3 linked regions of the Homo sapiens genome follow. The protein of the gene in region 2 interacts with the protein of the main gene of each other region in a pairwise test. Each region holds a gene or a part of one and is shown on either strand. Other genes may lie near its edges. The genes, in order: NDOR1, NLK and QRICH1.

Region 1 (9,156 bases), on a different chromosome or scaffold from region 2:
GCGTGGTGACACACACCTGTAATCCCCACTACTTGGGAGGCTGAGGTTGGAGGATCGCTTGAGCCCAGAAGGTCAAGGCTGCAGTGAGCTGTGATTTCAAGACTGCATTCCAGCTTGGATGACAGAATGAGACCCTGTCTCAACAACAAAAAAGGCCGGGCACGACGGCTCACGCCTGTAATACCAACACTTTGGGAGGCCGAGGTGGGTGGGTCACTTGAGGTTAGGAGTTCGAGACCAGCTTGGCCAACATGGTGAAACCCTGTCTCTACTAAAAATACAAAAATTAGCCGGGCATGGTGGCACGCACCTGTAATCCCAGCTACTTGGGAGGCTGAGGCAGGAGAATCACTTGAACCTGGGAGGCGGAGGTTGCGGTGAGCTGAGGTCGCACCATTGCACTCCAGCCTGGGCTACAGAGTGAGACTCCATCTCAAAAAAAGATGAGAAATCCTTCTAGAAAGTATGACAAAAAGCAAGATAGAAAATGGAAGGAAGCAGATACCAAAATTCGAAGATAATTCCAGTGGCCTCAGAATGAGAAGACAATGGTGGAGAGGAAGTTATCCAGGAAAGTAATGATGTCTAGAGCGGGGTCTGCGGCCAGAGAGCCCCATGCCCAGGAAGGGCCCTGCTGAGAATGAAAGGGCTACCCCCGGGGCATGTCACTGTGGGTTTAGCCTCTGGGGACAGAGTGCCCTACACACCCCAAGGGCAGCAAGTGGGGCCCTGGCTTTTCAGTGGTGGTGCCAAGCCCAGGACAGACCCAGCCGCATGCCAGTCGAGTGAGGGAAAAGTCACAAGAATGTTCTCTCCAGAACCCTTTTCTCGGGAAGGAGGAAGTTCACCAAACGGAGCAGGGAAGAGAGTCTTTTGGGATTCAGGAAGCAAGGGTGTCTCAACAGCAGGGCGCTAGGGAGGGTCTCGGGGGCAAGAGGCTGGGTACATTTGCTCGCATAGCGTGGCCCAGAGAGGCAGCTGATGAGGCAGTGAGGTCCCGGGAGGCCAGGGGTGGTCCAGGGCCAGGGTCAGAGCTGTGGGCTGACAAGGCCAGGGCCTCCCTGTCTGCTAGCCTCCATGCTTGGCCACGGGAAGGGGAGGTGGGTGGGCGGCGAAGACCACGCACACAGGCCACCTGGGATCCAGGTAGGGAGGGGGCAGTAGGTTCCTTGGGGGGGCCTCTGATCAAGCTGGGAGGACACCGTGGAAGGCACGGTGTGGAACCAGAGGATCTGGACCCTGTTGGCTCGAGGTCCTGCAGCCACGGAAGGAGGGGGATGTGTCTCAGCGACACTGGAACCTCAGAGGGCCGAGTGTGAGAGCCCTTGGGATGGACCTCAGAGGTCTGAGTATAGGAGCCTCTGGGACAGACCAACTCAGGGAGTGGAGGCCCACGCTCTGGCTGGGAAATGACAGGTGGAGGTGAGGGACCCCTGGGGCGGTGGACAGTTTGGAGACCAAGTGCAGAGCTGCTCCTGGCAGCTCAGAGCCTGGGGCAGAGGAGGGTGATGTCCCAGGAAGGAAGCTCCACGCAGGCCTGTAGAGCACAGCAGGGTCTGGCTCCTGTGGGCAGGGTGGGACCTGGTCTCCCTAGACGCTGGACCAGCCCTGCCTCCTCCCGGTGCCCATCATCCTGCAGGCTGGACCTGGGCCCTGCCTTTTGGTCAGATAGGTCCAGTTGTATTCTGCCCCCATCCTACCCACCTGCCTGTTCCCCTGAGACCCTCCCCTCACCCCCTGCTGTGGGGCTAGCCTAGAGGTCGAGGACTCTGACTCAGAGTTTCCTCCGGCTGTAGAACTTCTGGAGGTTTATATTCCGGAAGAACCTGCCCTCCACTGCCCTCTGTCAGATGGACTTTGCCGTCCTGGGCCTCGGGGACTCCTCATACGCCAAGTGAGTAGGGGATGGGACAGTGGGCGGACGGAACAGTTCTGGGGGTCGAGCAACAGGTGTGCTGGCAGAGGACCGAGACCAGCTTCCAGGGTCGGCCCCTGCGCGCCTCAGGGCCCTCGCAGTGGTACTGGCTTCTCCACAACGCTCCCTGGTGGGCACCCCAGGCTTCACGCTGCGGGGAGGGCACAGAGGGGAGCAGGCAGGGTGGCAAAGGGCTGGGCTCCAGCCACGCTGACGTCACACAGGCCTACCTGGCGCCGGTCCCCACTTTTACAAAAAGGCGTGCTGTGAAGTGTTGACGACTTTGAGCCTGGAGGAGGACCCCGTATGCTCCTGCCACCCCAGAGGCCACCTCTGCCTTTTCTCCTGGGCATTTTCACAGTGCTCCTCTGCACCCTAAGCAAGGAGTGGCATGTTCAGTGTGCAAATGGCATCTTTAGACCCCACAACGGTGAAAACCCCGACTGTCCACGTAGGGCCCAGGTCCGCTGAGCACCGAGCATCAAAAGCCGTTTGCATAGCCAGGTGTCAGTCATTTCAGATGAAAAAGAACGGGAAGATCGGAGACAGCTCCCCCCGGTTCTGCCGGGAGGTTTTGTTCCGTGCGTGACGTAGGTCCGTGCATGACGTTGTTTCCTGCGTGACGTTGTTCTGTGTGGGACACAGTGTTCGTTCAAGAGAGGGAGGGAGGCCGCTGCCGACAGCGTTCCCAGGGAGGAGCGTGACCCAGAGCCAGTCATGCCTCGGAACCAGAGTGAGAAGAGAAACTGACCCCCGGGAAGATGCCTGGCTCTCTCCCCAGCACAGAGTTTCTCAGCTGAGGAGTGACCCACATCTTGGCTGGGGGCCTGGAGGCCTCAGCTGCCTCAAGTCCCTGCCCAGGGATGAGGGCCCATCAGTGGGACGAGGCCGCCTGCTCCCACCCACACAGGCTCATTCTCTGCGAGCAGAGGACCTGCTGCTTGGCACCCTGGCAGCTGCCCTGGTCTCGGCAGCCCCTGGCGTGTGGAGGCCCTGCCCCCTCCTAGGGTGCGGCCAGCGTGGAGTGTGTTTTCCACCCGAGGGAGGCCCTCCCCAGGCTCCACTCTTCGCCCGGGCTCCACTCTCCCGGGTTCCACTCTGCCTGGGCACCACTCTCCGCCCGGGCTCCAGCCCAGGACCAGCCTCACTGTCTCCACAGGTTCAACTTCGTGGCCAAGAAGCTGCACCGACGGCTACTGCAGCTTGGGGGCAGCGCCCTCCTGCCCGTGTGCCTGGGCGATGACCAGCATGAGCTGGGGTGAGTCTGCGGGCGTGGTACCCGCCTCCACAGTCTGGTCTGGCCACACGCAGGGTCCGCTCAGGCCAGCGCACGTGCTCCCTCCCAGGCCCGACGCTGCTGTGGACCCCTGGCTGCGAGACTTGTGGGACAGGGTTCTGGGGCTGTACCCGCCGCCTCCGGGCCTCACTGAGATCCCTCCCGGAGTCCCGTGAGTGTGGGCCCCGGGTCACCCACAGGCGCAGCAGACCCAACCTGGCCTGGGGACCTCGCCCTGGGTCCCTCCCGTGTGGGTGGGCGGCCCCTGGGGAGTGGGTCCTGGTCTGACCAGCGTGCCCTCCCACAGCCTGCCCTCCAAGTTCACCCTGCTGTTCCTCCAAGAGGCACCCAGCACGGGCTCTGAGGGGCAGCGGGTAGCTCACCCCGGCTCTCAGGAGCCCCCGTCAGAGTCGAAGCCCTTCCTAGCACCCATGATCTCCAACCAGAGAGTCACCGGCCCCTCCCACTTCCAGGACGTTCGGCTGATTGAGTTTGACATCTTGGGCTCTGGCATCAGGTGGGGACTGCTGGGGACCGAGGAGGGCAAGGTGAGGTGGGCCGTGGGTCTGGGGTTCGGAGGAGGCTGGGCCGGGCTGCAGGGGATGACTTCTATCCGGGGCCCCGACATCCTCCCTGCGGCGTCCCCACAGCCCTGGTGGCTTCTTCCACACAGCTTTGCTGCTGGTGATGTGGTGCTGATTCAGCCCTCCAACTCGGCTGCCCATGTCCAGCGGTTCTGCCAGGTGCTGGGCCTGGACCCTGACCAGCTCTTCATGCTGCAGCCGCGGGAGCCAGGTGAGCCCAGCCTCGGCCACCCTGACTCTCTGCCCTCTCCCGTGCCCTGGGCCCCCACCCCAAGGGCTCCGCCGCAGCCCACGGAGGCCTCCCACTCACCCTGCAGATGTCTCCTCCCCCACGAGGCTGCCCCAGCCCTGCTCCATGCGGCACCTCGTGTCCCACTACCTGGACATCGCCAGCGTGCCTCGCCGCTCCTTCTTCGAACTCCTGGCCTGTCTATCCCTCCATGAGCTGGAGCGGGAGAAGCTGCTGGAGTTCAGTTCTGCCCAAGGCCAGGAGGAGCTCTTTGAATACTGCAACCGGCCCCGCAGGACCATCCTGGAGGTGAGATGGGAGGGCGGCAGGCCCAGCCCCTGAGCTACAGCCACGCTGCAGCCACCCTGAGACTCTCTTTGCCTAGGTGCTCTGTGACTTCCCGCACACAGCTGCCGCCATCCCTCCCGACTACCTGTTGGACCTCATCCCCGTTATCCGGCCGAGGGCCTTCTCCATCGCCTCCTCGCTGCTGGTGAGGGGCCTGGTGGTTGGAGCCCAGGACCGGCCCTGGGAAAGCTGGGACCGGGGCTGTGGGGTTTTGTAAGCAGGGGCTGCCCTCTGACCAGGTGACGTTCCCCCAGTCGGACTGCCTCTGCGGGAGGTAGGTGGGGCCCACGGCCCAGGCACAGGTGAGGGCAGCCTTGTTCCACCACCCCCACCCCGCCGTCCTCCCCAGACTCACCCCTCACGGCTGCAGATCCTCGTGGCTGTAGTGCAGTTCCAGACTCGCCTCAAGGAGCCCCGCCGGGGCCTCTGCTCCTCCTGGCTGGCATCCCTGGACCCTGGGCAAGGTGACCCCTGCTCCCAGGGTGGGGGCCGTGGGCCCATATCCCCTTCTCTCCCATGCTCATGCAAATGCTGGGCTAGGGCCCCAGCAGACTCAGCACAGGTCTTTGATCCTCTTCATGCCACCTCCTTCCTGCAATAGGACCTGTCCGGGTGCCCCTCTGGGTGCGGCCTGGGAGTCTGGCCTTCCCAGAGACACCAGACACACCTGTGATCATGGTGGGGCCTGGCACTGGGGTAGCCCCCTTCCGAGCAGCCATCCAGGAGCGTGTGGCCCAGGGCCAGACTGGTGAGCACCCAGGGTCTCCGGGCAGGGTTGTTGCCAGGGCTCCCCAGCTGAACCTCAAGGACCTGTGGCCAAGAGCACCCTGTATTTCCCTAGGAAACTTCTTGTTTTTTGGCTGCCGCTGGCGGGACCAAGACTTCTACTGGGAGGCTGAGTGGCAGGAGCTGGAGAAGCGGGACTGTCTGACCCTCATCCCTGCCTTCTCCCGGGAACAGGTGTGTATGCTCAGGGGCTGGGAAAGGAGGGGAGGGAGCTCCGGCTCAGCCCCCAGCCCTGTTCTCTGCCCTACAGGAGCAGAAAGTATATGTGCAGCACCGGCTCCGGGAGCTGGGGTCGCTTGTGTGGGAACTGCTGGACCGCCAGGGTGCATACTTCTACCTGGCAGGGTGAGCTGGCCTGCGTGCAGCAGGAGTGGGCCCAGCCCCTGAGTGCCAGGCCTCATTGCGCCTTCTGCGACCTGCCCCTCTAGCAACGCCAAGTCCATGCCAGCGGACGTCTCGGAAGCCCTGATGTCCATCTTCCAGGAGGAGGGTGGACTCTGCAGCCCGGACGCAGCCGCGTATCTAGCCAGGCTCCAGCAGACACGGCGCTTCCAGACAGAGACGTGGGCCTGAGGCCCGCGGCTGCCCGTGCCCCCTCTGACAGCCATCCTCCTGGGAGCCCAGGAAGGCATCCACGAGGGAGCTCCTGGCCAGCAGCCGTCATCCTCTCGGACCAGCCAGCTGGTCCTCTGGGAACAGCCAGCTCCCGAGCACAGCCGCACTCCTGTTGACCCTGGATCCCACCCTTTGAGCCTGACCCCACTGCAGCCTCTGCCCAGCCAGCCCTGCGCTCCCCCACCCTGACAGTGAGCTGTGTCCTCGTCCCCCCACCCCCTTCCCAGTCAAGGTGGTGGCCTGGGCCGCTCCACCTCACCGGTGCAGTGACCCAGGACGGCATCAGCAGCCCAGTGAGCACCAGGGGTGGCATAGGGCACCCATGAGGCTGCGCTGCACTCCTCTGCCCTGGGGCCACCTCGGCTGCTGCAGCCTGCCCAGCAGCACATTCCAGTCACTGCCCCCGCACTCCCACAGGGCTCAGGCTGGGCTCAGAGGCCACTGAGATGCCAGCTCCTTGAGAGCAGTGGGGGTGTCCCAGGCCAGAGCAGCCTCTTCCTCTCCTGGTCCCAGAAAAACCCTTGCAGTAAATGGTGGCCTCTGGGTGGTTACTTCTAGCGCAGGCTTCCTTCCTTCCTCTAGCTCCTCCCGGTGCCCTGGGTGCTGGGTGCTGGATGGATGGGCGTCCTCTAGCTCCTCCCGGTGCCCTGGGTGCTGGGTGCTGGATGGGTGGGCGTCCTCTAGCTCCTCCCGGTGCCCTGGGTGCTGGGTGCTGGATGGGTGGGCGCCACGGTGCACCCTTGTTGGGCTGCCTGTGCCCGAGTGGCCTCTGCAGCTCTTATGTCTGCCTCTAATGGGATGTGCGCCCTGACTGCCTCGTTCTTAAGGGCATAGTGGGTCGGCTAAGATCTGATCGCCAGGACTGCGTTCTGGGCAGGTGCTGGGAAGGCGGAACCAAGCCGTCCGTGCCGCTAGGGAGCCGAGACTGCCGGAAAGAGGAGCGGCAGGAGGGGGCGTGGTTGTGCAGCCCCACCCCCGGGAGGGGCTTTAGGCACTGGGAAGGAAAGTCCTGTTGGAGGAGTTCGGTGGCTGTTCACACCCGCCTCGCTGTCTTGGAGTCTTGATCTGTCGTCGGCGGGTCGCTGGCACAGGACTAAACATGGCTGAGGCTGGGCTCCAGCCAGATCTGGCTGGGGACAGCACCGCGTGGGCCCAGGATCCACCCAGAGCAGGCAGGCCTTGCTGGGGCCCCAGTCAAGTCCACTTCCAGTGAGGAGAGCCAGCCGGGAGGTCAGTGCCAGAGCTCTGGTGGAGCCCAGACCCTGCCTTCCCTGAGGGCCGCCCCTGTCGCCGCCCTGGGGTCCCTGTCCTCCTATCCTGACTCCTGCCCCAGGGCCACCACCCCTGAACTGTGCCCTGGGGCCCCCACCCTCCACCTGGCCGACTCCAGCTCTGGGCCTGTCAGTCCACCTGGGTCCTCTCTGGGCCCTGAGTGCCTGGACCCTCTGTGCCAAGCACCAGCAAGCAAAGGGGATGACCTTGGGCACCCCCAAGGTGCTGAGACTACAGCCAGTGAGCCCCTGCTGGGGGCCAAAGCCATGGAGGGTGCCTGGGCCCTTCCAACCTGGAAGGAGGAGGGGAGAGAGCAGGCAGCAGGGCAGGGGGAAGAGGAGGAGTGCCCGATCTGCACAGAGCCCTACGGGCCCAGAGAGCGCCGCCTGGCCCTGCTGAACTGTAGCCACGGCCTGTGTGTGGGCTGCCTGCACAGGCTGCTGGGCTCGGCCTCCAGTGCCGACCTGGGCCGGGTGCGCTGCCCGCTGTGCCGCCAGAAGACGCCCGTGCTGGAATGGGAGATCTGCCGGCTACAGGAGGAGCTGCTACAGGCCGACGGGCCCTCACGCCAGCCCCGCCGAGAGGCCCCTGCATCCTATCACCGCAACCCTGGGCCCTGGGGCTCCCTGGAGCACCGCTACCAGCTGCGCTTCCTGGCAGGGCCCGTGGGCGGCCGGGGCTGCCTGCCCTTCCTGCCCTGTCCACCCTGCCTGGGTGCCCGGCTCTGGACCCTGCGGGAGCGGGGACCCTGTGCCCGCCGCCTGGCGCTGCTGAGCCTGCTGGCCCTTGAGCTTCTGGGGCTGCTGCTGGTCTTCACGCCGCTCCTGCTGCTGGGACTGCTCTTCGTGCTCCTGGACCGCTCTGGCCGCTGAGCAGAGCCCAGGACAGCCCCGCCGCCAACAGGCCAGGGGGCCCAGACTGGCCCACGTCCCCATGCCTGGGTGCTGTGAGGCCTGATGACCAGGCTGGAAAAACCCAAGGTTGGGTCCAGGGCAGTGGCCTTCAATCAAGACCTCCCATTGCTGAACCCACAACCAGGGCTACCCAGAGGCCTGACCCTGCCAGAGTCCATGGCTGCACTGCTGCCCAGACACTAGCTGAACCCAAGGACACCAGCGCCCAAGGACAGCTCCTGGAGGAGGCCAGCCCAGCAGGAAAGTCTGTGAGCAGGACCCCATTCACCCTGCGGCAGACGGGCACCGTACTGGCCACGGGCTGACGCCGGCCACACTTCCCCTCCGAGGGCCAGCTGAGCACAGCAGGCATGAAAGCAAACAGAGATACAGCAGTGAGTCAGTTCCTTGGAGAGGGCAGGGACTCCGCCCACCCTGTGTTCAGATAAGGGCCAGTGTGTGTCCCTGAAGGTCAGGCCAGCCGGGGGAGGGGTCCATGCTGCGAAAATTCAGCCTGCAAAGGCTCCTCTCCCCACTTGATCAGGCCCAGACCAGGTGGGGGTTGGCGCTGGCCTGTGTTGCAGGGGACAAGGGCCCACCCAGGCCTTGGAACATAAGCTCTGCCCCTGCACACCCTCATGTCACCACACCTGGGATGGAGACATCAGGTGGCCCAGCGAGAGATGGAGGACTGATCCTGGAACGTGAAGCAGCTTTCAATAAACCAGCTCCTGGGGATGCCATTGTTACTACTTGTCTTTGTTACCCCATCTTCACCATCTGGGCGGGCTTTTTTTTTTTTTTTTTTTTTTTGAGACAGAGCGTCACTTAGTCACTCAGGCTAGAGTGCAGTGGCACGATCTCTGCTCACTGCAACCTCCACCTCCCGAGTTCAAGCAATTCTTTTGCCTCACCCTCCTGAATAGCTGGGATTACAGACATGCACCACCACACCTGGATAATTTTTTTTGTATTTTTAGTAGAGAAGAGGTTTCACCACGTTGGCCAGCCTGGTTTTGAACTCCTGACCTCAGGTGATCCATCCGCCTTGGCCTCCCAAAGTGCTGGGATTACAGGCGTGAGACACCGCACCCAGCCTGGGGCGGGCTCTTCCTCCCACCCAAGTGGTCCAGGTGCCAGACAGGAGGCGCTGGGTCCTTATTCCCCTACCACCATTTCAGCCAGTCTTTGTCCCTAACTCCTGCACATGCCCAAAGGCTACTCCCACACAACCCTGG
Region 2 (11,473 bases):
ATTACTGTAACCTGCAGAACCTGGGAAAATGAACACAGAGGAAGCCAATCAATTAAACATGGTTGAAGATGCTCACATAATTCTCTGAGGCAATTCAAACCCAAACCAAGCCCCTTCTTCTGCACAATAACCACATTACTTGCCAATTTTTATAGCTTCTGGATTACTTTTAATAAAGCTCAAATTTCCTCCGCATCTGTATTACTAAATTTCCAGCTCTATTGAAGTAAATATAGAAATCAAGTTTCCTATTTTAAAAAATTAGAAAAGAGAGGGAAGTGGAGAAGAAAGTGGGGAAAAACCCTCTGCACCAGGCTGCATGTTAATTTAGATGTGCAATGAGACAATCACCTGATAATTGTACCCTTTGGGTACTTTTGTACTGGTAAGATAATACAGTGAAATAAAGTCACCTGGCTTATTTCAATTAACTTACACAATTTGCAAATCTGCAACTCTCTGCCATGGTACATTAAGAAAATTAGCATGTAAGAAAAATCACCTGCTTATGTAAATTGACGGATCATTTTTATCCATGCAGACAGGAAGAAAAGCTGCAATCTGGGTCAAATGACTAATTTTATCTATTTGTTCAAATGTCTCTTTTCACCTTTTTTCTGTAGCTCAGAGCAAGAATTTTAGGTCAAAGAATGGATAAACAAAAAGTTTCTGTGTTGTCCATTCCCCTGTAAGAAGTCTGCTGCCTGACACTACTGAGCTCTATACTACTTAAATTGAAAACAAGACTGAGAACCTTATCCAGATAACAAAACCACAATACGGAGAGGATAAAAAGAGAAATCAATAGGAGATATCTGCTCTAACTGGGAAGGAAAGCAAACATGGCAACGATCAGGTACCAAATTTACCTTCTGCTACTTTAGGCAAACAAAGCTTCAGAAAAGAAAAGGAAAAATGCCTCCAAATAACTCAGGACAGACAGGACTTCTCTATAGAGATCATTATTCCAGTTTGTTCCATAAATATACCCACTCAAGTTCTTCTGAGTCTGACACAAGTCAGACAAATGCAGTATCTTGGTCATTAATGACTGCATTCCTGGCATTTACTGCTGGTATTCATCCCTCCCATTTAAAACTGACTCCATCTCCAGGTCCAGAAGTGGATCTGATTGCTCCAAAAGTAATCTTACCTTCATTGACAGTGACTGGTTCAGAAATGAGTATGTAATCCAACAAAAGCCAAAGAGAGGCCAGGTGCGGTGGCTCAGGCCTGTAATCCCAGCACTTTGGGAGGTCAAGGTGGGCAAACTGCTTGAGCCCAGGAGTTTGAGACTAGCCTGGGCAACAAAGTGAGACCCCATCTCCACAAAAAAATAAAAAAAATAGCCAGGTGTGGTGACAGAGCAAGACTGTCTCAAAAAAAAAAAAAAAAAAACACCAGAGATCAATATGCTGGTGCTGGTCAGTAGCCATGTGTGGCTACAGAACACTTAAAATGTGGTTAGACCAAACTGAGACATATTCTAAGCATGAAGATACATAGTGATTTTGCAGACTCAGTATGAAAAAAAAGTAATATAGATCATTAATAATTTTTATAGTGAATACATGTTGAAATGACAATATTTTGGATATAGAGTTAAAATACATTACTAAAATTAATGTCACCTGTTTCTTTTCAGTTTTTTACTGTGGCTACTAGAAAATTTAAGATTGCATACTTTCACTATGTATTTACTGGATAGCACTGCTGGTTTGCTGAGGGTGTCTGCAAAAATGCTCCCTTCCTCTTGGACAAGAGCTTTAGGAAGTCACTCTCCCTCTTTGGGCACTGTAAGCCCTAAACTACTACAGCCTGAAAGCTGTGTCAAAGCTCATTTTCTGGGAGGCCCACATGCAAACTAGTAACTCTCTTATCCAAATTCAGAATTTAAAAGAGACTCCTGGAAAGAAATTTGTTTTAAAGAAACTTGCAAATTAATGTAAGCACTGGCTCCCAAATCATCTTACCTGATTACTCACACACAAAAGATGACAAAATACTGAACATTAAATTTTATTTAAAAATTTAAAAATCACTCAAAATATTGTAAGAAAACTATTGTAAGACTTATAAGAAACTAAGCAAGTTTTTAAAGTCTAAAACACTAAAAAGGTAAATATTATCAGGAAAATAGTAGTATCAAATGGACATGTAGAAGAAATTGCTCATTTGCAAACAGGCCTGCTCTTCTCCACAGCTGAACTACATGTATAATCCTTACCAATAACTCAGTAATAGAAGAAAACAAGTCTCTTGATGAAAAAAAAATGAACATTTAAAATCTAATCCCAAATTAGAAAACTCTATAAAAGTCACCACTCTGGAACAGGGTGACATTTATCTCATTCCTCCTTTAAACAATTTTAGAAGCTATTCAACACTGTAGTCCTGAAGAGAGAAAGTTGTCTTGTGGTCACCAGCAAACTCCAACAAATATTAATATCATTTTATAATAGAATCTTAGGAAACACAGGATTTTATAAATGAGAAAACCAAGGCTCAGAAAGTTTAAATAACTTTACCAAGGTCACAGGGTTGTTGGCAGCAAGGCTAGGACCAGAACCTTGTCTCCTAACAAGTTTAGTTTAGTAATCTATTACCCCATTGTTTAAAAAAAAAAAAAAAGCCGGGCGCAGTGGCTCACAACTGTAATCCCAGCACTTTGGGAGGCCGAGGCAGGCCGATCACGAGGTCAAGAGATCGAGACCATCCTGGCCAACATGGTGAAACCCCGTCTCTACTAAAAATACAAAAATTAGGCGGGTGTGGTGCCACGTGCCTGTAATCCCAGCTACTCGGGAGGCTGAGGCAGGAGAATCCCTTGAACCTGGGAGGTGGAGGCTGCATGAGCCAAGATCATGCCACTGCACTCCAGCCTGGTGACAGCGGAAGACTCTGTCTCAAAAAAAAAAAAAAATCCTTCCCAAGGAAATGGCACCTTGAACATCAAGTTCTCTGGTTTATTAAACTAAAAACAAACAAACAAACAAACAAACAAACAAATGAGATTTGGAAGAATTGTATTAATAATTTTAAAAAATTGTAAAAAGTAATACTGAATACTTAAGACATTCTTTAGAATCAATCAAACACAATCACTCTCTCAAATGCCATCAATGATCTATTTACTATCAGGCTAAATACAATGGCCTTTTGGCCTTTTCTCCATCTTAATTTTCTGACTTTTTTTTTTTTTTTTTTGAGACAGGTTCTGACTCTGTCGCCCGGGCTGGAGTGCAGTGGTGTGATATCAGCTCACTGCAACCTCAGACTCCTGAGTAGCTGGGACTACAGGTGCGTGCCACCACACCAGGCTAATTTTTTTTTTCTGTACTTTTAGTGGAGATGAGATTTCACTATGTTGTCCAGGCTGGTCTCGAACTCTTGGGCTGAAGTGATATGCCCACCTCAGCTACCCAAAGTGCTGGGTTTACAGGTGTGAACCACCATGGCCGGCCTTCTTTGACTTTTTATCAGCACCAAAGATCACTCCCATTTTCCTAACAATCTTCTGCCATACTTAGATTGTCAATCATTGTGAACACATTTTCCTAACTGCCCTTTAGTTCTGCTTCCAGTAGCTTCTTCCACCTACAACTGAGAACATTCCCTAAGACTCAGACAGATCTCAGTTCTCTCTACTCTTCTATTTTACATATCCAAAAAAAAAAATTAAATCTGACGAAGTCTCTCTTACTTAAAAACTTTCAGTAGTTGCCATTCGCAGTTTTAACCTTTTCTCATCATTGCCCGCCTACGGAGCCTTTTTAGGCTATTTTCCTAATCATCCCCTCGTAAAATCTTAATACCACAGATATGCTATTTAACTGTTTATGTGCTATATGTCCACATATGCTTTATTAATAAAAAGCTGTTTTTAGTGCCTCAAGCATGACATTCCAACCTCTTCATGATTGAGCTCTAGCTTACACTTCCTACCACCCACTGCACTGCACATTCAGCATCTCCAGCCCTGTAGTCTCCTGCATATAGGCCCTTCCACCTAGACTGCCCTTCCCCATTGGTTGACTCTCATTCTTAAAACTCATTGAAGAATTACCTATTTTAGGAAGCATCCTGACCTTCCATAGAAATCCCTCCTCTACACGCCCTTAATGTCCAGGGACTATCTCTATTGCTGCATTTATGGCAATGAATTATAATAATCCATTTACAAATCTATTTCACCCAGTAGGTCATAATCACCTTTAATCCTTATCTCCAGCACAGTGCCTGGCAAATAGTAACATACAATAATTGAATATTGTAAGAACAAGTGAAAATAATATATATATTTTTTGAGACACAGTTTCACTCTTGTTGTCCAGGCTGGAGTGAAACGGCACGATCTTGGCTCACTGCAACCTCTGCCTCCTGCGTTCAAGTGATTATCCTGCCTCAGCCTCCCAAGTAGCTGGGATTATAGGCATGTGCCACCACACCTAGCTAATTTTGCATTTTTAGTAGAGACGGGATTTCACCATGTTGGTCAGGAGGGTCTTGAACTCCTGACCTCAGGTGAACCGCTCCTCGGCCTCCCAAAGTGCTGGGATTACAGGCGTGAGACACCATGCCTGGCCTGAAAATAATATATTCTTAAGTTTTTATTTAATGGTTTCAAATTTAGTTTCACCTCTCCACCAAGGCTGAGGACACCCTGAGAGTAGGCATGTTTCATTGTTCATATTGTTTACTTGACTGTCAACTCCTCCAAAGCAATATGGTGACTTAAACATCCCTATACCTCAGTACTAAGCACAATACAGACAACAGCAGCAGCAGCTTAATAGAGGTTCGCAAAATTATTTATAAGACTAAATATCCCCATTTGGTGCTTGCAAAAGTGCTGGTCCACAGCGAAGTGACAATAAAAATATATAGACTAGTGAGTTCCAAAGGTGTTAAAAACTTTCACTGCCTCATAGTAGATATGACTCAATTAGCCAAATTATTTCAAAACTGGGTTTAGGTAAAGAGCACCAATCATTATGAGTGGCAGACATCCCCATATATACTCCCTCTACTCACACCATTACAACTAAGAGTTAAAGTTCAATCTCAGTAGAGTTCACTTAGAAGTCATCTTTCCATAATGCCAGAGTACCAGTTTTTTCTGTTTCTGCACTAGGTACCTTACAACTACTGACTATGTCTATCATGACTTGTTATGTGCTCACTGACAGTGTTACAACTGTTGCCTCAGACACTCTGTTACTTCCAAGCAATATCAGGATCACACTGACAAGCTATTTTAGTTATTGTTGACCTGTATTAGATGGCCCAATCAACAAATAATTCACTGGAGTAGCACAGAGGCACAGGGACTCAGAATTAAAACCCAAAGAGACGCATAATTAAAGAGCTTCTAACAGCTTCTGTCCATTTATTGGTTGGATGACAAATGAAAAAGTTTCTTTGGCCTTGACAATCTCCATCAAAGAAACCAAATAAGCATGTTAAGGAAACATACAGTATATGAACAGTTAATTCTTGTATTGCTTGGACATCAATAAATCTAATAAAAACGACCAAGAATAGTCACTCAGTTTTACAATATAGAAGGCAGAGAAAACTCTGACACTCCAAGTTGTGAAGACAATGAAACATTCCAGTACTCCATTAGAGGACTTTTTGTATCTACAGCTGCCTGTGCTTTGAAGGTAAAAACCCAGAATTTAAATTCAAACATATTCAGTTAATGCACTTATGCATTTTACAAATTTTTGTTCTGGTATAGCATATGAAAGGGAGCTATATCTGCCCCCATTTCTCTTTTATGACACATGCCCAGTGGTACTGATGGCTAAAAAGATGGTATTTAATGTTGAGGGATATTGTTCTAACTTGCTTGAAAGGGCAATGTTTCTGAAATGCCTTAAAAAAAAAAACTGTCTTTTTTTCTAAATTAATATTGGACAGTATAACATGAAATTTCTCCCCAAGAATAAAACAAGTTTATTTTTTGTGCTGTGGTTTTTTGAACATAATTTGGATAATCTTTTCAGGAGTCTAAGTACAAAATGACTTGCAACGTTATAGGCTATGGAGTTTCAACCACCAAGAAGTGGGTGCAGAATCATCAGATTGTTACTTTTATTCTCTACTCTTTATCTACTTTATGATCATGAACCTGTAATTTCCAAAAGTAAGTTCGTTTGTAGTTAAAATTAACAATACAGATTTCCACATTTCTAGTTTCATACGGATGCTTTGTTATGTCTAGAAGAGCAACCGTTTCCTTTTTATGGTGCAGGCTCTGCTTCTTCAAAGCTCTTTTCACAAAGCAGAGCCCCCAAAGAATCCAGCTGTGGCTGTTAATCTCGGCTGATAGTGGAGAAACTTCTCAGTACTACAGATTCTCAACCTGTAAAACACAGTTAATAACAAAATACCCTTTAGTATACTACTCTTTCTGATGCAACTTACTCCAGGATTTTCCCCAAACATATCCCAAAAGCATTCTGCATTTTTCCAAATTAGTTTGTTATGTGGAGTAAGAGGACCAGACAAAACATAAGAAAAAAAGATGCCTCTCATGTTCACAAGATGAGCAAGCTAGACAATCTCTACCATGCACAAGGGCTTATACTGAGTAATTTTTTTGTTAAATCACTATATTTCTCCCACCTCACTGGGATCTTTAGCAATTCACACTTTTTCATCCAAACATAAGCAAAGTGAATCTCTACTTCGACAATAAGGATGTCTTTCATTTGTTACATTCTGAAAAGAAAAAATTAATTTCCCAGTATATAAATCCATAATACTTTCTAAAACAGTGCAGATGATCTGACTAAAACACCTACAAAGTCCATACAAATGTGTATTATTTTTATTTGTTTTTAATTAGTTGACAGGACAGCACAGAGTATTTTCCCCTTGGCTTTAAATTCAACCATTTTCAAATCTCCCTGACATACAGTACAACTGAGGGGACACGCTACGTTATTTAGAGTCATGCCTCCAAAAATAGTCTGCATGCTGATTTCACCTGATAAATCTGACAATCTATGAAGACACTTCCATGCACATTAACACAACAGCTTGATTTTTCTACCAACAATAACTACAATAAAAACAACTAACATTTATTGATGCTTACTGTGTGCTAGACAGTGTAATCATTGGTTTACAAGAATTACCTCACTTAATCTTCACATCAATCCTGAGATAAGTACTATTATTATCCCCATTTTATAGATGAGGAACAGAGAAGTCAAATAATTTATCGAGATCACAGAGCTAGTAACTATCACTACAGTTTTGAAAGACAGATAAAAGTAACCTGCTGAAGTTATTAGAATAATAAAATTCAAAGACCTCCAACATTACTTGGAGTACACAAAGGCAACAGAGCAAGTGAATCCCAGGATTTTTGATCTTTTAATTAATCAGGCAAGTCACAAACCAAAATGCTAATTTTATAAAAAAGTCTTTTCCCAGACTCACTTTTACCAAGGTGGCAATATGTGCCATTAATTCCATCTCTGATATGTTAAGTTGCCAATGTCAAAAACGGTCTAGGCACAGCGATCCTCAAACCACTCTCATGCGGTCAACTTCCTCCATCTCTCAAAATTATGAGCCCCTGAAACTCTTTGTCCCAAAGTTGTTACATCTTTAACCACAGCATTTTCCTCTGGCAAATGTGAACTGCAGACAAAAAGGTAGATTTATATTACTCACCAAATGACTGAAGTTACTATTTGTGGGTTGCTTTGTGTTTTGTTTTTGCATTATGAAAATGTCCATGTGGGTGTTTGGAGGCTGTAATGTCTCAAAAAGAAGGTCAAATTGTATATGATATCTTGATAACCCATAAACAACATTCTATCAGTGGCAACAAATGTTATCTCAGGTTATCCCACAATCACATTACCAGGTAAACTGGAACTCTTACTTTGAGATAAAATACAGCAGACAGTTGTTAATGAAACCTTAATTGAACTGTCACAGCACCATCCTTACCAGCAAGCTAATGAGTAATTCACTACTTTTACACAACTGTCCAATACTGATAAGTTATTCCACTAGTTAAATTCAACAGAAAGATAAATCAAGTCAGCTAGACTAAATTGTTCAGTGATAAATCTGGTAAAATGCTGCATCACTTCTACAAATATCTCTCCTTGTCTACATGGAGAAACAACAATCTCTCTCAAAATTGCATGCCACTTTTTTAGCCATCAGTTAGTACCCCTGGGTGTATGTCCCCAAGGAAATGTGGGCAAATACAGTTTCTTGTCATATGCTATTCCAGAAGAATACTTGCAAAGTGCATTAAATGAATATATGTTTGAATTAAGTGAATCTTATAATACCCCGGTAGTTAGTTACATGGCGGTTTCAATCAAAGGATGCATCACTGGGAGAACATTTTTATGTTCCATTATAATCATTTTAGAAAAAAGTTGTTTCCAATTCATAAGGTGCTTCCTAAATTAAAAAGATACATTCTGTTTCAGTTAAAAAGTAAAAAACCTCACTAATATCTTTACCTTGGGTTTCAGAATATTAGTGCAATTCCCGGTAGTTTGGTTTTCAAATCTCTAAACAGTCTTACTTAGGTCATACAACAGTTAAATTTCAAATATAATAAGGAATTCAGACAGCAAGTCATTGACATGTAAATATAAAAATAGAAAAGCATTTGCATACTAAAACATACACCTGGAACTCTTTCCTTTTTCATACCAAATTGTATTTCACCTGTAACAGCTGATGAAAACACTCAATGCAGTTAACTAGAAAAACTTGGTTAAAAAAACAAAGACCCGAATCACGTGATAACACAGGAGGACGGCCATCCACAAGCCAAGCAGAGGGGCCTCAAAAGAAACCAAACCTGTACCTTGATATTGGATTTCTAGCCTCCAGAACTGTGAGAAATAATTTTCTGTTGTTTAAGCCAAAACAAAGAAGGACCTGACTAGATCAATTAACCAAGCAGCAAAGATGCCAAAGCACTGTGCTAGGCGCTGAGGAGAAAAGGATTACTACAGTAGACAATCCTTACCCTCAAGGGGCTTACGAATGTAGTCAGTGACACAAGACAAACCTGAAGTAAGATGGTGCACAGAGGTGTACTTTAAGTACATGAGACAAACTCCATAGGTGGTAGAGCAGTCAATCAATTAAAAACCTCTAGAATGGCTTCAAACCAAATATATGTGGGCTTTCAGATATCAAAGATTCATAGTACCCACTAGCAGAACGTTTGCTGTGTGAGATGTTTCAGCACTCCAGTTCTTTATTGCCCCCTTCCTTAAAAAAATAAATAAATAAAATAAAAACTGCTACAAGTCACATCACTTTTTGATAGAAATGTAAGTGAAAAATGCCTTTTGAATATATTCAAGAATGCTGCAACCCATTTCCCTTTCAGTATCCCTAGTTTTTAGCATTGTATGTAAGGCACTAAAAAAGAAAGTAAGCATCCAGATCTAAGAAGATCCAAACAAGTGCTAAAAGTTATTAGTAAATCAATGACAAAATTTAAACCAAGGAACAACCGTTTTCCTGTCTGTTCCATCCCCCAACCAAAGCTTGGAAATCCTCAAGAGTTAGGCAAGGATAAGTTCACAGTTAAATCTCTGAGATAGTCTGTGGAAGGGAAGAGAGGAAGGCAGGAACAGGCAGGTCCCTGAGCAGAATGACCAAGGCACCATTACCAGCTATACTCTTTTCCACCTTGAATCCCACACACCTTGAAGAAAGGACCACGCTGCAGCAGAAACTTCCTTGGGGACTAGCTGAGAAAACACTGGACTCTACTAGTTTTTTTAAAAAATGGATGAGATCACTTAGCAGCCTAGATTATCAAATCTGAAATATAAATAAGATGGCCAGTTAAAATGCATAAACAATGCACCCATCAATTTTAGCCTCAAAAACAATGACGAAAGGAGATATTTACCGGGCTAGTTCCAAAGAGTTCATTTTCCTGTGGTAATGGGCGCTTTTCTCGGGAGTAACAATTTTTGAATGCACTGAAAATATCAATTCATCTATCCAAAGTGGAATCATTAGTCCTTGGGAGAAAACCCAGTTCATTCTAGTTTTGATAGGAACAAACATATTTTATTATAAACTACTAATCTTTCTAAGGTTAGACCAAATAGACCAAAATGTTATATTTAAGAAGCCCTTAGGCTTTTACAAATATCCTAGCACTAGCAAAGGTAGGGTCATTTGTTAAAAAAGTATTATTTCCTACTACAGCAACTGACCAACAGATAACAGCAACTTAAGAGGCACTAAATGACACTAAAACATTACACTGAATGTGGGCCACTGCATAGCTAGTCTACTAACCTCATTTGTGGTACTCATGTGTGATGCTATATTTAATGCATTCTTATCAAAAGGCTACAGCTACATACTTCTCAACTGTAGCTTTATGGTTTAAAATAAACCACTCAAGCAATGATCTTAACTGGTTCAACTATGAATCCTATCTTTCTTCTGGAGATCAAGATCACAAAATAAGTGAAAAGACAGAAAGGACAGGAAAGTAGTTATGCAAAGTATATCCTAATGACAAGAGTATTATAAAGGAATTCAGTCTGGATCAGGTGCTAACACTTAATGCCACAGGGCCACTGAATCAAACACACGAGATGACCAAGGTCTTCGTAGGAATTAGTATTGCATACATTCATCTACTGATCCTGTGTTCAGTGGCTTGCTTAGGTTCTAATAGAAAAGTTTGGTAGACAGCACACTTATGTGTGTTGCTCATGAGAAGGCGCTCCACCAAAACTTGCCATGAGCCTAGACAGCCAATGCATTAGGCCTCTTTACCACATAAGTGAGGGTGGCTTCCTACAGTTGGGTTGAGAAGCTTGCTGCACCTTGGTCAACATGGAGACAACCATTAGAGATGGACTCATCCAATGACAACCAACAGAAGAAACCATGAGAGGTTGTGTTTTTCTTTGGATACTCACCAGACAACACCAAAGGCTCCATATCCAATAGGTCTATCCGGCTCAATATCCAGCTGCTGCTGTGGATGATGCGAGTGCTGATGATGGTGCGCCTTAACTGTAGCAGCTGCGGCAGCCTGTACCTGAGCTGGGGCTGCTGCAGCTGGTCCAGGAGCCTGCCCCGGTGCCGGTGATGGGAAATATGGCTGTTGTTGCCCAGGGTTTAACATGGCTGCAGCTGCAGCCGCTGCTGCGGCTGCCGCAGCTGCCGAAGAGGTGTGCTGCTGTACAGGGTGTACAGCGGCAGCCGACCCCGGATGAAGATGGTGTTGAGGGTGGTGGTGGTGGTGCAGGTGAGGAGGAGGGAGGTGTGGAAGGTGGTGGTGATGGTGGTGGTGGTGACCTGCTGCTGCTGCAGATGTACCGCCATTGTAAGCCGCCATCATTTTTGCGTTGGCTCTTGCGCCACAAAGAGACATTCAAAATAAATGCCCTTTGATTGGAAAGCAAACTGGGTCAAGCTGTCATTTGGCCATTTA
Region 3 (11,994 bases), on a different chromosome or scaffold from region 2:
GTAGAGACGGGGTTTCACCACATTGCCCAGGCTGGTCTCGAACTCCTGAGCTCAAGCAGTCCACCAGCTTTAGCCTCCCAAAGTGCTGAGGTTACAGGCATGAGCTACCATTCCTGGCCAGAAGTGATTCACAAATGGTAGTTCAAGAGACTCGTAGGGGCCTGTAATCCCAGCACTTTGGGAGGCCAAGGCAGGCAGATCATGAGTTCAGGAGATCGAGACCATCCTGGCTAACACGGTGAAACCCCATCTCTAATAAAAATACAAAACAAAAATTAGCGGGCGTGGTGGCGGGTGCCTGTAGTCCCAGCTACTTGAGAGGCTGAGGCAGGAGAATGGCGTGAACCCGGGAAGTGGAGCTTGCAGTGAGCTGAGATCACACCACTGCACTCCAGCCTGGACGACAGAGGGAGACTCCGTCTCAAAAAAAAAAAAAAGAGAGAGACTCCTGGTAGCCTCCAAGCACCTTTTAGGGTTCCTCAAGGTCAAAGCTGTTTTTATTACAATGCCAATGTATTAATTTGCCTTTTTCACTTTCATTCTCTCCTGACCATGTACTGGAGTTTTGCAGAGGCCATGTGTGATGTATAATAGCACAACAGATTGAGTGCGGAAGCAGATAGGAGAATTCAGCTACCTTATATTAAGTCAGCCATTAAATAGGTTTGCAAAAATGGGTCAGGCGCAGTGGCTTACGCCTGTAATCCTAACACTTTGGGATGCCGAGGTGGGCAGATCACTTTGAGGTCAGGCGTTCGAGAACAGCCTGGCCAACATGGCAAAAACCTGTCTCTACTAAAAATACAAAAATTAGCCGGACATGGTGGCATGCCCCTGTTATCCCAGCTACTTGGGAGGCTGAGGCAGGAGAATTGCTTGAACCCAGGAGGCAAAGGTTGCATTGAGCTGAGTGAGCCAAGATTGCCTCACTGTACTCCAGCCTGGGCAACAGAGTGAGACTCCATCTCCAAAAAAAAAAAAAAGAGGTTTCCAAAAATGTAAAACAATGCAATTCTTATTATAATTATTTTGGCAAATAGTTATTTTTCATGAGAATATGTTATTTATGTTAACATATAATGGCTTTATTTTTGTTTGTTTTTTTCTAGAACAACTCTTGCTCTGTCCCCCAGGCTGGCATGAGTGACACGATCTCCGCTCACTGCAACCTCTGCCTCCTGGGTTCAGGCTGTTCTCCTGTCTCAGCCTCCTGATTAGCTGGGATTACAGGCATGCACCACCACACCTGGCTAGTTTTTGTATTTTTAGGACAGACAGGGTTTCACCATCTTGTCCAGGCGGGTCTCGAACTCCTGACCTTATGTGACCCTGCCTGCCTTGGCCTCCCAAAGTGCTGAGATTATACGCATGAGCCACTGCATCTGGCTTTATCTGATTTTTAATTAATTTTTTTTGTTTTAGTATAGACGGGGTTTCACCGTGTTAGCCAGGATGGTCTCGATCTCCTGACCTTGTGATCCACCCACCTTGGCCTCCCAAAGTGCTGGGATTACAGGTGTGAGCCACTGCGCCCAGCATGGTTTACAATTTTTTAAATTCCTAGTTTTGGGCCAGGCGTGGTGGCTCATGCCTGTAATCTCAGCACTTTGGGAGGATGCGGTAGGTGGATTGCTTGAGGATATGAGTTCAAGACCAGGTTGGCCAACATGGGGCAACCCCATCTCTACTAAAAATACAAAAACAAACAAAAAAACAGCCAGGCATGGTGGTGGGCACCTATAATCCCAGCTACTCGGGAGGCAGAGGTTAAGAGAATCGCTTGAACCCGGGAAGACAAAGTTGTACTTCCAAGATCACACCACTGCACTCCAGCCTGGGCGATAGACTGAGACTCTTGTCTCCAAAAAAAAAAAAAAAAAAAAAAAATTAGGGCCAGCCATGGTGGCTCACGCCTATAATCCCAGCACTTTGGGAGGCCGAGGCAGGCGGATCACCTGAGGTTGGGAGTTTGAGACCAGCCTGACCAACATGGAGAAACTCCATCTCTACTAAAAATATAAAAAACAAAAAACAACAACAAAAGAAAACCAGCCAGGCATGGTGGCGCATGCCTGTAATCCCAGCCACTCAGGAGGCTGAGGCAAGAGAATCGCTTGAACCCGGGAGGCAGAGGTTGCGGTGAGCTGAGATGGCACCATTGCACTCCAGCCAGGGCAACAGAGTGAAACTCCATCTCAAATAAAAAAAGAATTAAAAAATTAAATTCCTAGTTTTAATTTAGAGTACAAGTAAATATTACTAGATATAACCTATGTAAACAAGTTCTTTTGGGTCTTCAATATTTTTTGGCCAAATTCAAGTTTTTTGGTGTTAGAGTTTCACTTTGTTGTCCAAGCTGGAGTACAGTGGCACGTGCCGTTCATAGTTCACTGCAGCCTCAATCTCCTGGGCTCAAGTAGTCTTCCTTCCTCAGCCTCCCAGGTAGCTGAGACTACAGGTGTGTGTCCACGCCCAGGTAATTTTTAAAATTTTTTGTAGAGATAGGGGTGTCACTATGTTGCCCAGGTTGATCTCGAACTCCTGGGCTCAAGCAGTTTTCCTGCCTTGGCCTCCCAAAGTGCTGGGATTACAGGCATGACCACGATGCCCAGCCCCAAATTCAGGCTTTGACTAAGAAATCTTGAAAACTGCTGTTCTGCAGTAATTGGCTACATAGTTTCCTCTTATGTCTTTGGCATATAGCCCTAGTTCTTAAATTTGACCATGTAATTACACTGGAGGACTTGATAAAACCACTTCTTAGAATTTCAGAGTTAGTAGGTCTGGAGTGGTACCTGACAATTTGTATTTCTGAGTGCCTGGATGCTGCTGCTGCTGTTGGCATGGAAACTACATTTTGAGAACCACTGGTGCAAGGAAATAATATTTTACTTCATGGAGAGAAATAATAAACCTACTTATTTGAACACCTATTATCTGTAACTAAATATTATTTTATGTTTAAAACACTGTAGGGAAGTAGACATTCTCCCCTTTTATACTTACTGTACCTAAAGAAACTGTTTAGAGGTTAAATTTCCCCATGGATTCACAGGCAGAAAAGTGCAGCATCAATTCACATTGAAGTCTGTGATCTCAAAACCTGAGCCTTTTTTTTTTTTGAGACGGAGTCTCGTTCTGTCACCCAGGCTGGAGTGCAGTGGCGCGATCTTGGCTCACTGCAAACTCCGCCTCCCAGGTTCACGCCATTCTCCTGTCTCAGCCTCCCGAGTAGCTGGGACTACAGGCACCCGTCACCACGCCTGGCTAATTATTTTAATAGAAATGGGGTTTCACCATGTTAGCCAGGATGGTCTTGATCTCCTGACCTCATGATCCGCCTGCCTCGGCCTCCCAAAGTGCTGGGATTACAGGTGTGAGCCACAGCGCCCGGCCTTTTTTTAAAAAATATACTTAGTAACAGCTTTATTGAGATATAAGTTACCCATTTGAAATGTATAATTCAGGCACACTGGCTCACACATGTAATCCCAGCACTTTGGGAGGCCAAGGCAGGTGGATCACTTGAGGTTAAGAGTTTGAGACCAGCCTGGCTAACATGGTGAAACCCTGTCTGTGCTAAAAATGCAAAATTTAGCTGGGCATGGTGATGCGTGCCTGTAATCCTAGCTACTCAGGAGGCTGAGGCAGGAGAATTGTTTGAACCAGGGAGGCGGAGGTTGCAGTAAGCTGAGATTCCACCACTGGGCAACAGGGCAAGACTTTACCTCCCAAAAAAAAAAAAAAAAGCGACTACACCAATTTTTTCTTGTTTTTTTTTTTTTCTGAGATGGAGTCTCACTCTGTCCTTGACTGGGCTGGGTATAGTGGCGCCATCTCGGCTCACTAGCTTCCACCTCCCAGGTTCAGGCAATTTTGCTGCGTCAGCCTTCCGAGTAGCTGGGATTACAAGCATGTGTAACCACGCCCAGCTAATTTTTGTATTTTTAGTAGAGACAGGGTTTCACCATGTTGGCCAGGCTGGTCTGGAACTCCTGACCTTGTGTCCACTGGCCTCAGCCTCCCAAAGTGCTGGGATTACAGGTGTGAGCCACCGCATCTGGCCAACTACACCAATTTAACATGCCCACCAGCAGTTTCAAGTTGTCTATATCCTTACCTATACTTGTTATCTGTCTTTTTTAGATATAACTTATTAGATATAAAGTGGTTTCTCATTGTGGCTTTGATTGGAATTTCCTTCACAGCTAGTATGATATGGAGCAACTTTTTATGTGGTTCTTGGCCATTTGCATATATTCTTTTTTTTGGGAGATAGTTTCACTCTTGTTGCCCATGCTGTGGTGCAGTGGTGCAATCTCGGCTCACTGCAACCCCCACCTCCTGGGTTTAGTAGTTCACCTGCCTCAACCTCCCAAGTAGCTGGGATTACAGGCATGCACCACCATGCCTGGCTAGTTTTGTATTTTTAGTAGAGACGGGGTTTCACCATGTCGGTCAGGCTGGTCTCAAACTCCTGACCTCAGGTGATCCACCCACCTTGGCCTCCCACAGAGCTGGGATTACAGGCATGAGCAACTGTGCCTGGCCTCATTTTCTGCCTTCTTGTTTTCTACCTTTCTAATTCCTACTTGTGGTTAGGGTAATTTATCTATGTGTCTGATGGTAAAAGCTGTTTTTTAAAAGTTGCATACTATGTATTTTTTTCTTTTCATGCTCTTTTGCATGCTGACATAATAATAAGACAGTAACTGTATTGTTATCAGAAACATGTCATCCAGGTTATGGTAATATTGCTCAGATTAAATTATTGGGATTCTGTTTATTTAAATGCCTTTCCCATTAAACATATGTTAAGTAAGCACTCTAAAGCAGTGGTCCCCAACGTTTTTTGCACCAGGGACTCGTTTTGTGGAAGACAGTTTTCCACAGACATTGATGGGGGTGGTGCTTTGGGATGAAACTGTTTCACCTCACATCATTAGGTGTTAGATTTTTTTTTTTTTTTTTTTTTTTTTTTTTTTTTAAGATGGAGGCTCACTCTGTCACCCAGGCTGTGATGCAGTGGTGCTCTCTCTGCTCACTTCAACTTCCGCCTCCTGGGTTCAAGCTATTCTGCCTCAGCCTCTCAGGTAATTGGGATTACAGGCATGCACCACCATGCCTGGATAATTTTTTATATTTTTAGTAGAAGTAGAGGTGGGGTTTCACCATGTTGGCCAGGCTGGTCTTGAACTCCTGGCCTCAAGTGATCTGCCCTCCTCAGCCTCCCAAAGTACTGGGATTACAGGTGTGAGCCAATGCACCTGGCCAGGCATTAGATTCTAATAAGGAGCATGCAGCCTAGATACCTCACATTTGCAGTTCACGATAGGGTTTGTGCTCCTACAAGAGTCTAATGCCACCATTGATCTGACAGGAGGTGGAGCTCAGGTGGTAATGCTCACCTCTGTGCTGTGTCGTTCGCCTACGGACCAGTACTAGTCCTTGGCCCCAGGGTTGGGGACTTCTGCCCAAAAAATCAGGCTGGGGGCTGGGTATGGTGGCTCACGCCTATAATCCCAGCACTTTGGGAGGCCAAGGCTGGTGGATCACCTGAGGTCAGGAGTTTTGGACCAGCCTGGCCAACATGGTGAAACCCCGTCTCTACTAAAAATACAAAAATTAGGGCTGGGTGTGGTGGCTCACACCTGTAATCCCAGCACTTTGGGAGGCCAAGGCAGGCAGATCACGAGGTCAGGAGATCAAGACCATCCTGGCTAACACGGTGAAACCCTGTCTCTAATAACAATACAAAAAATTAGCCAGTCGTGGTGGCGGGTGCCTGTGGTCCCAGCTACTTGGGAGGCTGAGGCAGGAGAATGGCATGAACCTGGGAGGCGGAGCTTGCAGTGAGCTGAGATCACACCACTGCACTCCAGCCTGGGCGACAGAGCGAGACTTGGTCTCAAAAACATATATATGTATATATAAATTAGGTCTGGGCGTGGTGGCTCACGCCTGTAATCCCAGCACTTTGGGAGGCCGAGGTGGGCGGATCATGAGGTCAGGAGATCAAGACCATCCTGGCTAACACGGTGAAACCCTGTCTCTACTAAAAATAAAAAAATCAGCCGGGCGTGGTGGCACGCACCTGTAGTCCCAGCTACTCGGGAGGCTGACACAGGAGAATCGCTTGAACCGGGGAAGTGGAGGTTGTAGTGAGCCGAGATCGCACCACTGCACTCTAGCCTGGGCGATAGAGCGAGACTCCGTCTCAAAAAAAAAAAAAAAAAGTTAGCTGGATGTGATGGCAGGCACATGTAATCCCAGCTACTTGGGAGGCTAAGGCAGGAGAATAGCTTGAATCCGGGATGCAGAGGTTACGGTGAGCCGTGACTACCATATCACTCCAGCCTGGGGAACGAGCGAAACTCCATCTCAGAAAATAAATAAATAAGGCTAGGCATGGTGGCTCAAGCCTGTAATCCCAGCACTTTGGGAGGCCAAGGTGAGCGGATCACAAGGTCAAGAGATCGAGACCATCCTGGCCAACCAACATGGTGAAACCTCGTCTCTACTAAAAATACAGAAATTAGCTGGGGGTGGTGGCATGCGTCTGTAGTCCCAGCTACTCAGGAGGCTGAGGCAGGAGAATAGCTTGAACCCAGGAGGCGGAGGTTGCAGTGAGCTGAGATCATACTACTGCACTCCAGCCTGGTAACAGCGAGACTCTGTCTAAAAAAAAAAAAAAAAAATTAGCTGGGTGTGGTGGTGGTGTTCCTGTAGTTCTAGCTATTTAGCAGGCTGAGGTGGGAGGATCACTTGAGGAGTTTGAAGTTTAAAGTGCCCTATCATCTTATCACGGTACTCTAACCTGGGCAACAGAGCAAGACCCTATCTTTAGAGAAAAAAACGGTCCCTTGTGATGGCTCACGCCTGTAATCCCAGCACTTTGGGAGGCCAAGGCGGGCGGATCACGAGGTCAGGAGATGGAGACCATCCTGGCTAACATGGTGAAATTCCATCTCTACTAAAAATACAAAAAAAAAATTAGCCGGGTGTGGTGGCAGGCACCTGTAGTCCCAGCTACCCGGGAGGCTGAGGCAGGAGAATGGCGTGAACCCGGGAGGCGGAGCTTGCAGTGAGCTGAGATGGCACCACTGCACTCCAGCCTGGGCGACAAAGCGAGACTCCGTCTCAAAAAAAAAAAAAAAAAAGAGTGAAACTCCATTTCAAAAACAATTTTTAAAATGCTGGCCGTGGTGGCTCACGCCTGTAATCTCAACAGTTTTGGAGGCCAAGGTGGGCGGATCACTTGAGGTCGGGAGTTCGAGACCAGCCTGACCAACATGGAGAAATCCTGTCTCTACTAAAAATGCAAAATCAGCTGGGCATGGTGATGCATTCCTGTAATCCTAGCTACTCAGGAGGCTGAGGCAAGAGAATTGCTTGAACCCAGGAGGTTGAGGTTGCAGTGAGCCAAGATCATGCCACTGCACTCCAGCCTGGGCAACAAGAGCAAAACTCCGCCTCAAAGAAAATGGAAATAAAAATGCCGGCCGTTTCGGCTCACACCTGTAATCCCAGCACTTTGGGAGGCCGAGGTGGGTGGACCAGTTGAGGTCAGGAGTTCAAGATTAGCTTGGCCAACATGGTGAAACCTCGTCTCTACTAAAAATACAAAAATTAGCTGGGTATGGTGGCACATGTCTATAATCCCAGATACTCGGGAGGCTGGCTTCAAGAATTGCTTGAGCCTGAGAGGTGGAGATTGCAGTGAGCTGAGATGGCACCACTGCATTCCAGCCTGGGCGACACAATGAGAATTTGGGGAAAAAAAAAAAGAACCAAAGTTTTGATATTTCCTTGTTAGACTCCAGCATGTCTGTAATCCCAGCTACTCTAGGAAGCTGAGGCAGGAGAATCGCTTGATCCCAGCAGGCGGAGGTTGCAGTGAGCTGAGATTGCGCCACTGCATTCCAGCCTGGGCGACAGAGCGAGTCCATCTTAAAAAAAAAAAATTTTTTTTTTTGGTATTTCCTTTTTAGGCCCCAGTTAATTGTCTTGCTTGCTCTCTGGGGTGGATATATGTCCCTGTTATTGTAATGTGCTGCTGGACAATCCTGGATCTAGTCTTACGTATTGTGTCCTTCTCAGAAGCCTTGAGTATGCCAGTGTTTTCTCACATTTTGCAGGTCCCCTGTCTGGGATCTCTTTTCTTTCTTTCCTTGGGTACTGGATTTTCAGTGCTGCCTGGTTCACTCACTGATGAATCTTGTTGCTTACAGGTCCAGGTGCAGGTACAGCAGTCTCCGCAACAGGTCTCGGCTCAGCTCTCCCCACAACTCACCGTTCACCAGCCTACTGAGCAACCCATCCAGGTCCAGGTGCAGATCCAAGGCCAGGCACCACAGTCAGCAGCCCCCTCCATTCAGACCCCGTCTCTGCAGAGTCCCAGTCCCTCGCAGCTGCAAGCAGCTCAGATCCAGGTGCAGCACGTGCAAGCAGCCCAGCAGATCCAGGCTGCAGAAATCCCGGAGGAGCACATCCCACATCAGCAAATCCAGGCTCAGCTGGTGGCTGGCCAGTCTCTTGCTGGTGGTCAGCAGATCCAAATCCAGACCGTGGGTGCCCTTTCCCCACCACCATCCCAGCAGGGCTCACCCCGGGAAGGGGAGCGGCGGGTTGGCACGGCCAGTGTCCTCCAACCAGTGAAGAAGCGCAAAGTGGACATGCCCATCACTGTGTCCTACGCCATCTCAGGGCAGCCGGTGGCCACCGTGCTGGCCATTCCACAGGGCCAGCAGCAGAGTTATGTGTCTTTGAGGCCAGACTTACTGACAGTAGACAGTGCCCACCTGTACAGTGCCACTGGGACCATTACTAGCCCTACAGGAGAAACCTGGACCATCCCTGTTTATTCTGCCCAGCCCCGGGGGGACCCTCAGCAGCAGAGCATTACCCACATTGCCATTCCCCAGGAAGCCTACAACGCAGTTCACGTCAGTGGCTCACCCACAGCCCTGGCAGCTGTTAAGCTGGAGGATGACAAGGAGAAGATGGTGGGCACCACATCTGTAGTGAAAAACTCCCATGAAGAGGTAGTGCAGACCCTTGCAAACTCTCTCTTTCCAGCACAGTTCATGAATGGCAACATCCACATTCCAGTGGCTGTGCAGGCTGTGGCAGGCACGTACCAGAATACGGCTCAAACTGTCCATATATGGGACCCCCAACAGCAGCCGCAGCAGCAAACTCCCCAGGAACAGACACCACCACCACAGCAGCAGCAGCAGCAACTCCAAGTTACTTGTTCAGTAAGTGAAGACTTATCAGTAGGGCAGGCAGCCTGGTCCCTCAGGGCCCAGTGCAGCACAGAGCTTGCCTCGCAACCTCTGGCTTATTTACTGCTGTTACTCTTACAGTGATGCAGTATTTAGTATTTGGGAGAAGAGGGGGAGAAACATCACGTGAGGCTATGCAACAGAAAAAAGAGTTTATCCTGGTACCTGGAGGTAAATGAGATGGCCAGGAATTGCTTTGGAGTTTTGGAGACATTTTGGGTTTAAGTACCATGGACACTTCTTTGTAATCTCTTCTCAGGAAGAGTAAAGTTACAGGTGTAGATGAATGGGACACCTCAAGTGTGTCCCAGTGCTGTTTCCTTGTATCATAAGTAAATGGTTTTAGCAAAACACTTGTAGTTTATCACATAGATTACAAACTCATCACTGGAGAGGCTGTGAGATTGTTCATTCTGTTTTTCATCTTTGGGCACACAGTGTGGGTGAATTAGAAAAGCTAAAATAACTCATAAGGAGCCTGTTAAAAGTGATCACCATTGGGAGGCTTGAATATGCCGTCTATGTGGTGGGACCTCCCAAGAGTTTTTGTGTTACGGGGGCGGCCGGGCGAGGTGGTGCACTTCTGTAATCCCAGCACTTTGGGAGGCCGAGGCAGGCGGATCACAAGGTCAGGAGTTTGAGACCAGCCTGGCCAATATGATGAAACCACGTCTCTACTAAAAATACAAAAATTAGCTGGGCATGGTGGCAGGTACCTGTAATCCCAGCTACTCGGGAGGCTGAGGCAGGAGAATCACTTGAACCCAGGAGGCAGAGGTTGCAGTGAGCTGAGATTGCGCCATTGCATTCCAGCCTGGACAACAGGAGCAAAACTCTGTCAAAAGAAAAAAGTAGGGGCCAGGCACGGTGGCTCATGCATGTTACCCCAGTACTTTGGGAGGCCAAGGCGGGTGAGTCACCAGAGGTCAGGAGTTTGAGATCAGCTTGGCCAACATGGTGAAACCCCGTCTCTACTAAAAATACAAAAATTAGCCGGGTGTGGTGGCACACACCTATAATCCCAGGTAATCCTACTCAGGAGGCTGAAGCAGGAGAATTGCTTGAACCTGGGAAGCAGAGGTTGCAGTGAGCTGAGATCGTGCCACTGCACTCCAACCTGGGGCAACATAGCAAGACTTTGTCTCAAAACAAACAAACAAAAAAACTATTAGTGCTGGGTGCAGTGGCAGTTGCCTGTAATCCCAGCAGTCTGGGAGGCTGAGGTGGGAGGAATGCTTGAGCCCAGGAGTTTGAGATCAGCCTGGGCAATATAGGAAGACCCTATCTCTACAAAAATTTAAAAAATATAGTCTAGTGTGATGGCACATACCTGTGGTCCCAGCGTAGATGCGAGGGTTGCATGAGCCTGGGAGGTTGAGGCTACTATGATCATGCCATTGCATTTCAGCCTAGAGAACAGAGTGAGACCCTGTCTAAAAGAACTGATTGGTAAAATATCTGGTCCCGTTAGAGTGGGATATAGGGCCTCTGGTCTTATGGGACTGATGAAGGTGCTATGCCTCGGTGGGCATAGGCTCCTGAGCATGCATATGTTTGTGGGAGCTGGTACAAACAAGTTAGATAAGGGACTGCACTTGGAAACATGGGCTGTAAGTGATTAATTAAGCAAAGGTTGACCAGGTGGTTTCATAGAGGCAGTATCATATTATCCTAGGTGACATTGTTAAGGACCTGCTAAATATCTAGCTGTTGGGCCTAGAAATAGAATAAGAGAAGGTTTTTTGCTTCATATAGCTTAGAGTCTAGTTGTGAAAAGTAAGAACTCAGGATTTCTTTTCCTTCGAATTATTTATAAGGCAGAATAATTATGACATATACACAAAGACAAACTGGGAATTTAGAAATTCTAGGTTAAGAAGTCAACAGAGGTCTTTGTGGACAAAATGACGTTTGAACTGTAGTTTATTTATTTTTGAGACAGGTTGTTGCTTTGTTTCCCAGGTAGGAGTATGGTAGTGATCATAATTCACTGTAGCCTCTAACTCCTGGGCTCATAAAATCCTCCCGCCTCAGCCTCCCAAGTAGCTGGGACTATAGGCACAGACTACCACACTCGGCATATATATATATTTGTAGAGACAGGGTCTCACTGTGTTGCCCAGGCTGCTCTTGAACTCCTGGCCTCAAGTGATCCTCCCACCTTGGCCTCCCAGAATGTTGGGATTACAGGCATGAGCCACTGCACCCTGCCTTGAACTGTTGAACTGTAGTTTATAGTTTAGATAAACAAAAGAATGGAACAGCATAAATACAGAGCCAAGGATGGACAGAAGGGACATGCCCTAATGCAACTTGAGAAGGGAACTGTGAGAATGGAGTTAGTATTGAGGGGTGGGGGTGGGGTTGTTGCCTTCCCAAAGTAGAACTGAGTTTGATCTAATCTGTGGTAGGAAATCAGGAATTTCCTAGATTTGTGGTAACAGGAGGAATCAAGTAGATGTGTGTAGAATTGACTGCATATAGGAGAAACTAGCCAGTAGATTTGTAACAGGTCTCTATGCTCAGCTTTTGTTCACAGAGATGGAGCCCATTAGGCCTCCCCTAGCTCTCCTGGGCCTGATGGTCCAATTGCAGGTCAGTGCCTCATTTGGTACTTAGTGGTCTCTGTTTATAATTTCCATGTCTGGGTCTTCAGCAGGAGAAGATCCTTTCTGGAGTTCATTTTAGTGGGCCAGTGTTCTTCAGA

The links.
Region 1: the proteins of NLK (region 2) and NDOR1 interact in binary tests that used the Homo sapiens proteins (3 or more experiments, as listed by UniProt).
Region 3: the proteins of NLK (region 2) and QRICH1 interact in binary tests that used the Homo sapiens proteins (3 or more experiments, as listed by UniProt).

The regions. Positions count from the first base shown.
Region 1 is NC_000009.12:137,210,706-137,219,861, forward strand, and holds the end of NDOR1 (NADPH-dependent diflavin oxidoreductase 1), read left to right. Parts: intron 1-1,796; coding exon 1,797-1,894; intron 1,895-3,074; coding exon 3,075-3,173; intron 3,174-3,261; coding exon 3,262-3,363; intron 3,364-3,498; coding exon 3,499-3,708; intron 3,709-3,864; coding exon 3,865-3,986; intron 3,987-4,092; coding exon 4,093-4,313; intron 4,314-4,389; coding exon 4,390-4,497; intron 4,498-4,701; coding exon 4,702-4,816; intron 4,817-4,953; coding exon 4,954-5,100; intron 5,101-5,193; coding exon 5,194-5,312; intron 5,313-5,361; coding exon of another isoform or gene 5,362-5,388; coding exon 5,389-5,483; intron 5,484-5,566; coding exon 5,567-5,711; 3' UTR 5,712-7,291; coding exon of another isoform or gene 7,292-7,897; 3' UTR 7,898-8,656; downstream 8,657-9,156. Other genes in the region: ring finger protein-like, read left to right, coding at 7,292-7,897. UniProt on the Homo sapiens protein: NADPH-dependent reductase which is a central component of the cytosolic iron-sulfur (Fe-S) protein assembly (CIA) machinery.
Region 2 is NC_000017.11:28,042,814-28,054,286, reverse strand, and holds part of NLK (serine/threonine-protein kinase NLK), read right to left. Parts: 5' UTR 11,414-11,473; coding exon 10,956-11,413; intron 10,950-10,955; exon of another isoform or gene 7,456-10,949; intron 6,371-7,455; exon of another isoform or gene 5,361-6,370; intron 1-5,360. UniProt on the Homo sapiens protein: Serine/threonine-protein kinase that regulates a number of transcription factors with key roles in cell fate determination. Positive effector of the non-canonical Wnt signaling pathway, acting downstream of WNT5A, MAP3K7/TAK1 and HIPK2.
Region 3 is NC_000003.12:49,054,128-49,066,121, reverse strand, and holds part of QRICH1 (transcriptional regulator QRICH1), read left to right. Parts: intron 1-8,231; coding exon 8,232-9,260; intron 9,261-11,994. UniProt on the Homo sapiens protein: Transcriptional regulator that acts as a mediator of the integrated stress response (ISR) through transcriptional control of protein homeostasis under conditions of ER stress.